Linked DNA regions of Homo sapiens: region 1 is linked to region 2. The links come from fine-mapping of genetic effects on gene expression. Tissue or cell type: whole blood. Region 2 holds a variant in brackets; the other region holds the start of a gene. All regions are shown on one strand. Distances are between the middles of the regions.

Region 1 (5,394 bases), 120 kb after region 2:
GGTCAGGAGGAGAATCTGCAACCACCCTCCTGGACCCGCCCATCCCTCCCTCCCCAACAGAAATGGAACCAAGAGAGGCAGAAGCCTGAACAGCCTCAATGCAGAAGCACAGAAGATAGAGAAAACCATTGATCTTTGCAATGCATTATTGATTTTGCTGTTGTGCTGTCAGCAGCGGACGTTCCCTCCCTCCTCAGTCAAAGCTGGCCATTAGCGTGCACTCCCAAGCTTTGGCCTAGACACACCCGCTTGGTGTGGGGAAAGCGGCTCTAGGTAACATCTGCCTCCAGCGGTCCACATGGAGAGGACTGTCCACAAGTGGATGATGTCACCAAGGACATCTCCCTGGCCCCAGACCCACTGGATATCAAATGCAACATGGTCGCTGGTCTTGCACTCTAAACCTCAGCCCAGGACCCCAGGCACTCAGGGGGGTCTGTGCAAGGCTGCATTTTCAACAGACTCTGGGTGTGCTTCTCAGGAGGTGGGCCCCCTCCCATGGAGTCCCTCCCTTGTGCTGTGCTGCAAGACCTTGGGCTGGCATGGCAGCTGGGGCTCTGCATCCCCACGGTGGCCTTTTGCCTGTCTGCACTCTGAAATACAGCCACTGAGTTCCACCGTCTACCAACTCCTAAGCGGCCCACCCTCCTGGGACCCCAGGGCTGCTCCTGGCACCAGTGATGTGTTTCTATTTCTTTGTTTGACTCGCTGAGTGTACCACGTACACTCTTCTCAGTCTGAAGGTCTGGCCTTATGGGAGGGCAGTCTTTGCTCACAGAAACAGGCCAGTGCATCCCTCATCTTCCCACCCCAGCCTCCCTGGTGGGTATGCTGAGCCCGCCTGCTTTCTTCTTCTGGCTGACGACTACCAAGACATGATATACGCAGACACCAACTGTCAAAATGACAATCAGGGCATTATCATCTCTACCAGAATCCTGCCCCTGCACTGGCCAGAGCTGCCTGTTTCTGGGACACAGTAAACATTCCCAAATAACCTCGCCTGGGCAGCCAGCAGGCAGGCCCCAGGCCTAGGACACATATGAGGTGACAGGCCACTGGTGTCACGTCACCCCCAGGAAAGGAAACTTCCGTTCCGTGGCGCCTGGTGGATTTGAAAAGACTCAGAACAGCAGGGTGAGATGCTTGGCCCCAGGCCCCACGTCCAGCTTGGCCTTCGGGGGCCTGGCCACCCACGAGCCTGGGATGTGCTCAACACAGAGTGAGGTTTTCAAAACAAAAGCAAAGCAACTTCATGTGGAAAACCTTCCGGAAAGCAGGACCCAGCCCTCGACACCAGGCCTCATTTGACGCAAACTGCCCACTTACAGACTCCCATTCACCCACTCTCCCACCTACCCCCCAAAATACTAAGCCAGAAAATAGAGGACAACCACGAGTTCAACTCTCCTTTACACGTTTTTACTGGCATAACCCCAGTAGAGCCAGCCCCTTGCAGCTCACTAGGCGGCTGCAACAGGTGCAGCCCAAGCTAAGGCTTGTGGTTCTCCTGGGCTGTTCTAGAATAATGCAACCAAAACCCGAAAGGAAACCGAGGCCTGCAGCACTCACTGCCAAGGCGGCGACCTGACCACTGCGGCCCAACCTGCCCCACCTGTCTGAGTGCGCGGCGCCGGGTCCAGTGCACAGGGTCCGCGGCCTCCGCGACCAAAATAGAAGCCCGCGGGGGCCCGGCCAGAGCCCGGCTGGCCGGAGTGGGGCCTGACCTGGCGGGGCCGGACTGGGCGGGCCGGGGCGCGACGGGGCCTGGCCGAGCGCACCGCCCCCTCCCTGGCCCGGGTATGCAGCGCGCCCCCGCTCCCCCGCGCCCAGAGGAGCCACCTGCGCGCAGGGACTGGGGAGGCAACCGGGAAGGGGAGAAGGCCGGGGAGGGATAGCAGAGAGGTCCAGGGGGTCGGAGGGGTCCGGGTAGGTGTCTCTGGGAGGCGTCCCAGGAGGGGCCCCGGGGGGATCCAGGAAGGAGTCCAGGGGTCCGGGGATCCCAGAAGGAGGCTCCTGCAGGGGTTCGGGGAGGGCCCCGAGGGTCCGGTGAGGAGCCTAGGGGTGTGGAGTGGGGGCTCCGCGGAGGGTCCAGGCCGCCCCCAGCGCACCTGCCCGGCCCCGCGCGCCCTCCCTCCCGCGCCAGCCCGGCCGCTTACCTGCAGCGCGCGTCCTGCCCGCGGCGGCTCCCGGCCGGGCGAGTTCGGGCGCCAGGAATGGCGGCGGCGGCGGCGGCGGCAGCGGCGGGAGGCGGCCGGGCCGGGGAGGGGGTGGCGGGGAGGCCCGGCGGCGGCAGCGGCGGCTGGGATGCTGCGGCGCGCGAGAGCGCTGAGGCCGGCGCGGGGACGGAGTGCGCGGGGCGGGCGCGCAGGCCCCTCCTCCGCTCCCCCTCCCTTCCCGCCTCCTCCCCTTTCCCTTCCCCTTCCTCTCCCCCTTCTTCTCTTCCCTCCTATGGCCCCGCCCCTTTCTTCCTCCTTCCTCCTCCCTCCTCCTCGCCCCTGCTCACCTCCCTCCTTTCCCTCCCCCAACCTTTCTTTTCCTCCCTTCTCTTTTTCCTCCTCTTTCTTCACCTTCGCAACACTCTTCCACCTCTCTCCCCTTCTCCCCACTTTTGCTCCCCACTCCTTCCTCCTCACCTCCCATCTCTCTTGCCTCCCCGCCAGGCCCAGAGGGTTGTCCCTCAGCCCTGGGTTGGTCTCTGCTGAGTCAAGCACCCGTTCCCAGGACCAAGAGGTGCCCTGTCACCCTCTTCCTCACCAGCTCTCAATAGACAAGCTTGCCCCTTCTGGGGTCCTGGATGAACCCCACCCTTTCCAGGCCTCCCCCAAATCCCCCAGTTTTTTTTCACCCCCAGACCCTGGGCCAGCTCTTCTGAGAACCTGACCTGCAGTGTGCGTGAGGCACGTGGCACCCAGAACACTTGGCTGCTGACTTTGGGCAAGAATATTTCACACCAGGCTGCTCCCATTCCCCAGGGGAGGGGCTGGCACCACCTGGAGTCTTGGTTTCCCTGAACCCCCGTGCTAGCCTTTTGCCAAACGTTCATCATTTTCCACTCTGTATGGCAAATGGTCCTCCTGTGAGGCTGCTGGTGAGACTTGTTTGTGACTAGCCCATGGGTTTGGGGATCTGGGGGCCCTCAGAGATGGTGCTGCTCCATCCAGACCTCTTCCCTCTGCCCCCAGGAGAGGTGACAGGGCTCGCACAGTGACTGGCCAGGCTGGGAGGCCTATTGAGGAACACAGTCCTGAGAAGGGGACACAGTTTCTTACGGAACCAGCTAAGATTTCCCCTAAATGTGAGGAGTTGGGGAGCCCCTCTCCAGGCCAGGTGATACCTCCCTGGACTACAGACTGCTGTTGAGGGGCAGGGGCCCTGAGGCTGTTTTCCTGCTGAGCACTGGCTCTGAGAGCCAGAGTTTACAAATGAAGCCAGTCCCAGGCCCAACAGTCACAGAGTTAAAGGCCCAACAGTCTCAGAGTTCCGTTCTAGGGCCTCCTGTGGTTTCTGTGGTTCAGTGCCGGAGCTCTGAGAATAGGGCTTCGGCCCAGCAAAGGCTAAGATGGCAAAGCTGGTGTCAAGCAGGGTGGGGTGGAGCACGCACCCCCTCCTCCCTCTACGGCATGGCAGCCACCACCCTCTTGCTGAAGAATCCAGACCTGGAATCTGATAGACTCCCTTGACTCACAGCTCTGCAGTTTCCAAATAACCTCAGGCCTCAGCAAACCTCTGTACCCTGCAACATGAGGACAGTGTGGTCGTCCTGGAGGGTTTGGGGAGCACGGAGAGAGAATGGCAGGTAAAGCCCACTGCACCGTGTGCTCGGGTTCAGTGCTGGTGACTATTACAGGAAAAACTAGAGAAGTCTTTTCCAAGCTCTTTTCCAATTGTAGGGGTCCATGAATCCATGTTCCACATCCCATTTGGATTGAAACATAATGGGAACGGATTAGGACAGAACTGGTTTAACAGCATTCTATACCCAAGGAGGGATGCACGCTTAGGATCTACACATGCAAGCATTGCACTGATTGGGGTGGGGTGGGGGGACTCTCTTTTATTCCTCACTAGTCAGACACATCTAGAATACCATGCCCTTGCTTGGTGTCTAAGGCAGCCAGCAGTATCCCGTGGGAGGGGAGTTGACCCACCGGGAGTCTTCAGCCTAGAAAATCAATGTGTGGAGCACAAGACAGAAGAACCCCAATATGTGCAAAACTGTCCCGGGAAGAAGGATTACTCTGTGGTGTTATGAAGGGCAGAATGAGGACAGATGGGTGGAAATTAGATGAGAAAGTGGATTCCTGCCTATCGTGGGCGCTTTCTGACAGACCTCACTGTGGAAGAGCCGGCTGCCCCTACAGGAGCGTGCCCTTCACAGCCAGCGTCTAGACAGGCCTGGGGCCACCTTGGGAACACACTGCAGGGAGGGGACCAGCAGCAGAGGGGTATGCTTCTCAACAACTGCTGAATTCTCTCCTGGCTTTTAGACCCACATGCTCAGAATCTAATAGAGGGCAGCCCAGGGCAAAGAAGAGACTTTGCATGGCTGTCCTGGGGCCCACACTTCTGGCATCATGACCTTCCAGAATACTGTCCTCTCTAGCCTGTTTCCTAATGCATACAGAAGAACATGAGAGAATTCAGTAAAAACTCCAAAAAGCTTTCCGCAATGCCCAGGCTGCGAACACAAGGGCTTCTTTGCACCGTGCTTATATAAAATTGCCCCCAAACATGTTTATTGCATTCATGAAGGAGACAGGACTCTTAGTTGTAAGTGATAGAACTTCAGCCCATACTATTGGCTCACTTGCATCCAAAGATGCCCCAAGTACCATTAGAACCGGGACTTGGATGCCATTATTAGGTCTTCCTCTTCCCTCCTCTCTGACCTTCTTCCCTGTTCCCTTCTCTCAGCATGATTGCCTATGTCTCCCAAAGTGACCAAGCTTGCCTTTTTATTCTTGTTTCACACTCTGTCGTGGGACATTTCAAACATAGATATAAAAGTAGCAGGCTGGGTGCAGTGGCTCACGCCTGTAATCCCAACACTTTGGGAGGCTGAGGCAGGCGGATCACCTGAGGTCAGGAGTTCGAGACCAGCCTTGCCAACATGGTGAAACCCCGTCTCTACTAAAAATACAAAAATTAGGTGGGCATGGTGGCACAAACCTGTAATCCCAGCTACTCAGGAGGCTGAGGCAGGAGAATCACTTGAACCCGGGAGGCGGAGGTTGCAGTGAGCCAAGATCATATACCACTGCACTCCAGCTTGGGCGACAGAGCAAAACTCAGTCTCAAAAAATAAAAATAAAAGTAGCTAAATGAACTCCAATCTTGCCTTACCTCTCACCCCCTTACTTTCCCCTCCAATATTAAGTTCAAGCATATCAA
Region 2 (5,394 bases):
TGCCCAGCTGCCTAAACCTTTCTTAGTCTGATGACAGCTGTCTTGTCAGGGTCAGGAAGACACAGAACTGAGGGTCAAGTCTGCCTTTAGCACCCTGGAAGGTGGCTGCTGGGGAAGGGGCATCTGGCCTGATGCCACCCCTCCCTCTGGGTGTGGTGCTATTTCAGACATCCACAGGCGGGTGAATCCCAGGTGGGAGCCCCAGGGGAAACACCACCCCAGCCCTTACACTGCCTGAGGATTAATCACTCATGGGCTCCTTTCTCCCCATTTATAACAGGCTTAGGTTTTGCTTAATGAGCCCCAAGCTAAGCAGAAAGAAAACAGGATGGTTTTGGAAGGAGACTGCTTCCCAGTAAGCAGATACACTCTAAGTGGCTTCAAGTACTCTTTCGGCAAGAAAAAAAGACAGAGAAGACCACGAGTCTGCTACAGAACACTTGACCTCTGTTCCGAGTGGAGAAAGAAAAACAAAACACACACAAATGCCACAGAACTGAAGCACCGTGAAATGGCTACAAGACCTCGCCACTCCCAAAGGAAATGGGACGTCGAGGAGTCACTCACCCGGGCACACAGAAGCATCGCCGCTCATCTCCTGAATCAAACCCCTGCAAAACAACCGGCACGTGTTATTCACCCACACACATGGGGGACATCCCCAGGCAGCGCATCCCGCCCCATACCTGCTGGGGCTCTCGGTCTGGTGCAGAGCCACGCAGGTCGCTGTGGGCGGGCTCCAGGCGCAGTAGGGGTCCCGCGCCAGCACACAGTCCTCGCAGGTGCCGTGCTTCCCACAGAAGGCCAGCGGGGCCTGGACCACGCCCGAGTTAGAGCCAGCATAGACAAACCTGTTGCCCTGCGTGTATGAGACAGAGAAGAACTAGCATCAGGCAAGCAGGCATCCAGGAGCATGGCCTCTGCTTCTGCACCAGTGTGTGGGAAGCAGCCAGAGTGTACCTTCAGGGGACATTGCAGTAAGGAGGAGAGGTACTCAGAACCAGAGGCAAACAAGGCAGGTCTGTGACCTTCCTGCAGAATCCACGTGCTATGTCAGGGCTCACTGGGCCTTAGGTCCAAATCCCTCTCTCCCCTGTCTGGGCACCCACAGGTGCCTGCCCTCCAGCAAAGCGCTTCTCTGCACGTGTTTCTCTTAGCCAGTGGGGAGGCTGTTCAGTCCCCACCTCCAGATCTCCTCCCTGCAGCAGAGGATGCATGAGCCTGGCACTCCCGGTCATCTTCCCGGCCTCACTATAGGTGAGAAGGGGCTGCAGCCAGAGGCTGAAGCACACCACCTCGAAGCCCAACCTCGTCCCCCGAGCCAGAATGTGAGCACCTGTGGGCGGGGAGCCTCTCGTGAGGGTCTGGATCCAGCAGAGGCCTAACATAACAGGGATGCCAAACGGACGACATGCAAAGGATGAGGAGATCGTGATACAAAACATAAAAAAGGAACAATGCCTTTTGCTTTTCACTTATCTATATGTAAAAGGGAAGAGCTCACAGACGGGAAGTCAACCTCCGAGCTCCAGAGCAGCCACACCCACAGCAGAGGGCAGGTGAGACTCTCCCACCTTCTGGGACACTTGGTTCCCAGTGACACCAGCTTCAGGTCCATCCCATCAGCCCACCTGGCACCAGCAGTGCCCAGCACACAGGCATCCAGGGCTGCTGACTGCTTTTGAACGGAACTCAGCTGGAAGGAGGGTGCCCCACATGCAGTGCACCCACCTGAAGCTCGGGGGCGTGCAACAGACCTGGAGGTGGCCCGTGGAGCGCGCTCTCTAGCCTCTGCCCAGGGCATCTGCCTCAACAGCCTGGGGACACCTTTTGGTTAACAATACAAGATTCCCAAATTTACACATGACTTAGTGGTTTACAGTCAGATGAAACACGACCTTCATCCTCAGAGGATACGCTCGGAGTCAACTTCAGAGTGTGGTTGGAAGATCACAGGCCCTGATGCCAATACAGGAAGCCCCAGGCCACACATCCAGCTGTGCGGACACAGACCCACGAGAGAAAGGGAAAGCCCCCAAGGATGGAAACTGTGATAATACACAGCAGAGGGAACCTGGCCCGCCGCTGGCCTCACAGCAGCAGCAGCAGCAGAGACCTGGGCAGATGAGGCCATGTGTGAGCCACGTTTGTGGGAAGGATTGAGGATGACATCCCAGATCACAGTTCGGGCATCGCGCGGCTTGTGGAGGTGGCGGAAACATTCTCTGGCAGCAAAGCCAAGCTGGGTAACTTCCAAGGGACAGCTGGTCCTGTTGGGTCCCGCGGGGGGCACCTGCGAGGTGGCGTGAACACCATGCAGTGCAGAGCAGGGTGCCCTGGGTGGCCAAGTGGGGCCCGCCTGACTCCTCACCCCAAAGAGAGGCTTGAGGGTAGCTGTGGAGGGTGGGGTGGGCTCTGGGGGGCAAGGCCTGTCCCAAGGGGATCCAGACCACCTCCTGCACCCTGCGGGAGACTCAGCCCCAGCTTCCGCTTCTCCCGGATGGGGCTGGGCTGCAGCCCAAATGAAACTAAGCT[G/T]TAAAAACTAAACGACGCCACACAGAGACCAAGGGATGACTGTGGAAGGGAAGAGGGGACAGGGAAGGAGGAACTGGTCGTCAGGACAGCCAGCTGTAACTGCTGCAGGCAGGACCCACTGGTCGATGTGGATGTCAGTGGGTGGGAGAACAGGGCATTTCTGTAGCCTCCAAGTCTGTCCCTGCAAATAAGCATGAATGACTGTGGGGGTTTCCCACATGACTCCCCTGGGAGGTGGGGCTCACTCTCCCCCACCCCCAGTGTGGACTACATGCCCCGACACACTCGACATGGAAAAAGACGGTGGTGACTTGGACAGAATGACCAAGGTCATCACGCTGGTGCGAGTCATACAGATGCCCCATCCCCAGAAAGCGCCCTCTTTGGTGCTCCCCCTAAAACCACGACCCCAAGATAATCACAAGAATACACCAGACACACCACAAAACACCAGACTACTCCTCTCCAGGAGTGCTGAGGTCAGGGAGGCAGGAACAGAGCAGAAGCCGAGGAGATGCAGTGTCCAGTGCAACCTGAGGTGCTGAGCCAGGAATGTGGTGGGCGGGAGGTAGGAGGGTCCAGGGTCTGGGGTTCAGGTAACGCACTGCACCATGACAGCACCTTGGCTCAGATAAATGCACACTGGCTATGTGAGACATCGGACATGTGGAGCTAGGTGGGGGCGCTCAAGATCCTTCTGTGCAATCATCAAAACTCTTCTGTAAATTTAAAATTATTTCAAGACAAAATTTTTAAAGGCAAAGAAAAAAAGCCTGACCAGGCACCTGGCAGCATGAGTGAGGCCCGCTGAGAGCAAGCCTGTCCTGTGCACTCCTGCCCCTCGACGCCCCCTGTCTCCGCCTTCCCTGGGCCTGAGGATTGTCCCCTTGCAGGCAGCTCTCATGCTCCCATCTCTGTCTCTGCTGCTGTGTGTGCGCGTCAGACCCCGAGGGCAGGTTGGAGTGACGGTGGACGTGATCAGAGGCAACTGAGCTGTCTAAGTGCCTTCCTTGCCCTCTGCCACGCTAGCTGTAGCTCAGCATCCCAAGGAGTCCTGGTGAAAATACAGACACAGCCTACTCGGTGGGCTCAGAGAGGGCCGAGCAAACCGCATCTGCTGTGTGCGCCCAAGGAATGGAAAGCAAGGACTTGAGGTATCTGCACACCCACGTTCACAGCAGCACTGTTCACAGAAGCCAGAAGGTGGGAGCAACCGTGTCCATCAAGGGATGAACGCACACACAAAATGCGGGACTCACAAAATGCGGTATTCACATACGACAGAGGAGTATGTAGCCTTGGAAAACCCTGACCCCTGCTACAGCAGGGAGGAACCTTGAGGACTTTATGTTAAGTGAAATAAGCCAGTTACAAATGGATAAATACTGTGTGATTCCACTCATATGAGGTACCCAGACAGAAACAGAAAGCAGAATGGCGGCTGCCCAGGGCTGGAGGAGGGGAAAATGAAGAGTTTGTATTTCACAGGTAAAAAGCTTCTGTTTGGGAAGATGAAAAGCACCCTGCAGACAGACAGTGGTAATGGCTGCAAAACAACGTGAATGTTCTTAATGCCACTGACGTGCACAATGAAAAATGGTTAAGACGGCAAATTTCATCTGATGTGTATTTACCAAAATAAAAAGCAAAACCCCATGCTTGTCATCAGGGGAGAGGAGGTGAGGGTGGAGGCACAGCGCACCTCCCCAGCTGTAGGACAGGGGGAGGGCGTGGTACTGGCCGTTTCTCCATTTGCTGATCACCGTGAGAGAGCCTGATGGGGTCAGGCGGCACAGTCTTTTTACCACTGAACAGCCACTTCCTGCTGCCATGGCCATGGAGCTGGGCCTTCCACCCCCACCTGGAGCCTACTGAGGCCCAAGGAGAAGGCACAGGACCCCACGGCAGGCAGGATGTATTTCCGCTTGTCCAGGCAACTAAGCCACGTCCCCACGAATGGAGGCTCCTACAGAGACAGGCGGGTCGGGTGGTCCAGTAGGACCAGCAAGCGCTTCCCCAAACCCACTGGCTCCTCCTCCTGGGCGCGAGGCTCCCTGTGTGGCCAGCTGCCCTGGTGTGGCCATGTGACCGAGTTCTGGGAGATGGCGGGTGGGCACTGACCCGTAACCCCCTCTGTGCGGCCCTCCTCTTCCTACCCCCTTCTGCCTTTGAGGATCAGTGCCCATGTGCCCTGGAAGCCTCCACCAGCCTGGGTCCCTAAGTGACCCTTGGAACAGAGTGTCATTCTCACGAATGTCCACACCAGGGGCCCAATCTTCATTCTAATGAGAAGTCCACATTTTAGAGATGTTGTAGGTGCCTGCCCAGTCTGGCTGAGGCCACTGAACAGCACGATGGCCCCAGAAGAGCTTCTGGGTCCCCTTCTTTCAACAACGAGGCTGGGGTGAGGCCCCACAGTGGCTAAAGCGTCGACCCTTCAAATCTCCAGGGCTCCCTTTGTGTCCTGGAGACCGAGAGGCTGGTGAACAGATGCCAGTACCCAGTGGCTTATAACTTGCTCAGGCTATTTCATTCTCTTTTCCTTTCAGATCTGAGGGAGAACTCTCCATTAGCAGAGGGGAGGTGACCACGTAAAAGGACCCAGGCTCCCAAGCTTTGTGGATACAGGGGAGGGAAGAGGACAGAAGACCTGGAGGGGTGTTTGCAAATACGCACCTGCCAAGGGTAGGTATCTTACCCGGCCAGACAGGGGCCCTCTTCCTCTGCCTGTTGCTCCCAGCTGAGGGAGGAGAGGACTGACTGGGCCTGGATCCCACAAGGTGGTTGGAGGTCCCGTTAGGAGCCAGGGCCAGGGAGGCAGCCCCCTAAAGGCCAGCGTGGATGCCCGCCCACCCACCC

The links. PIP is the estimated chance that this variant, and not a neighbour inherited with it, causes the effect.
Region 1: SEMA4D starts here. The variant in region 2 is fine-mapped to the expression of SEMA4D in whole blood (TOPMed, PIP above 0.99).

The regions. Positions count from the first base shown.
Region 1 is chr9:89,495,760-89,501,153 of GRCh38, forward strand. It overlaps SEMA4D (semaphorin 4D), which reads right to left and starts at 2,354. Exons shown (of 16, transcript NM_001371194.2): 1 at 2,160-2,354. RefSeq lists silencers at 1,674-1,823, 2,254-2,443.
Region 2 is chr9:89,380,488-89,385,881 of GRCh38, forward strand. SEMA4D (semaphorin 4D) reads right to left here. Exons shown (of 16, transcript NM_001371194.2): 14 at 687-859; 15 at 568-611. Among named protein-coding and RNA genes, the nearest start is that of SECISBP2, 65 kb to the left of the region's middle. The variant G/T (reference allele first, on the strand shown) is at 2,536.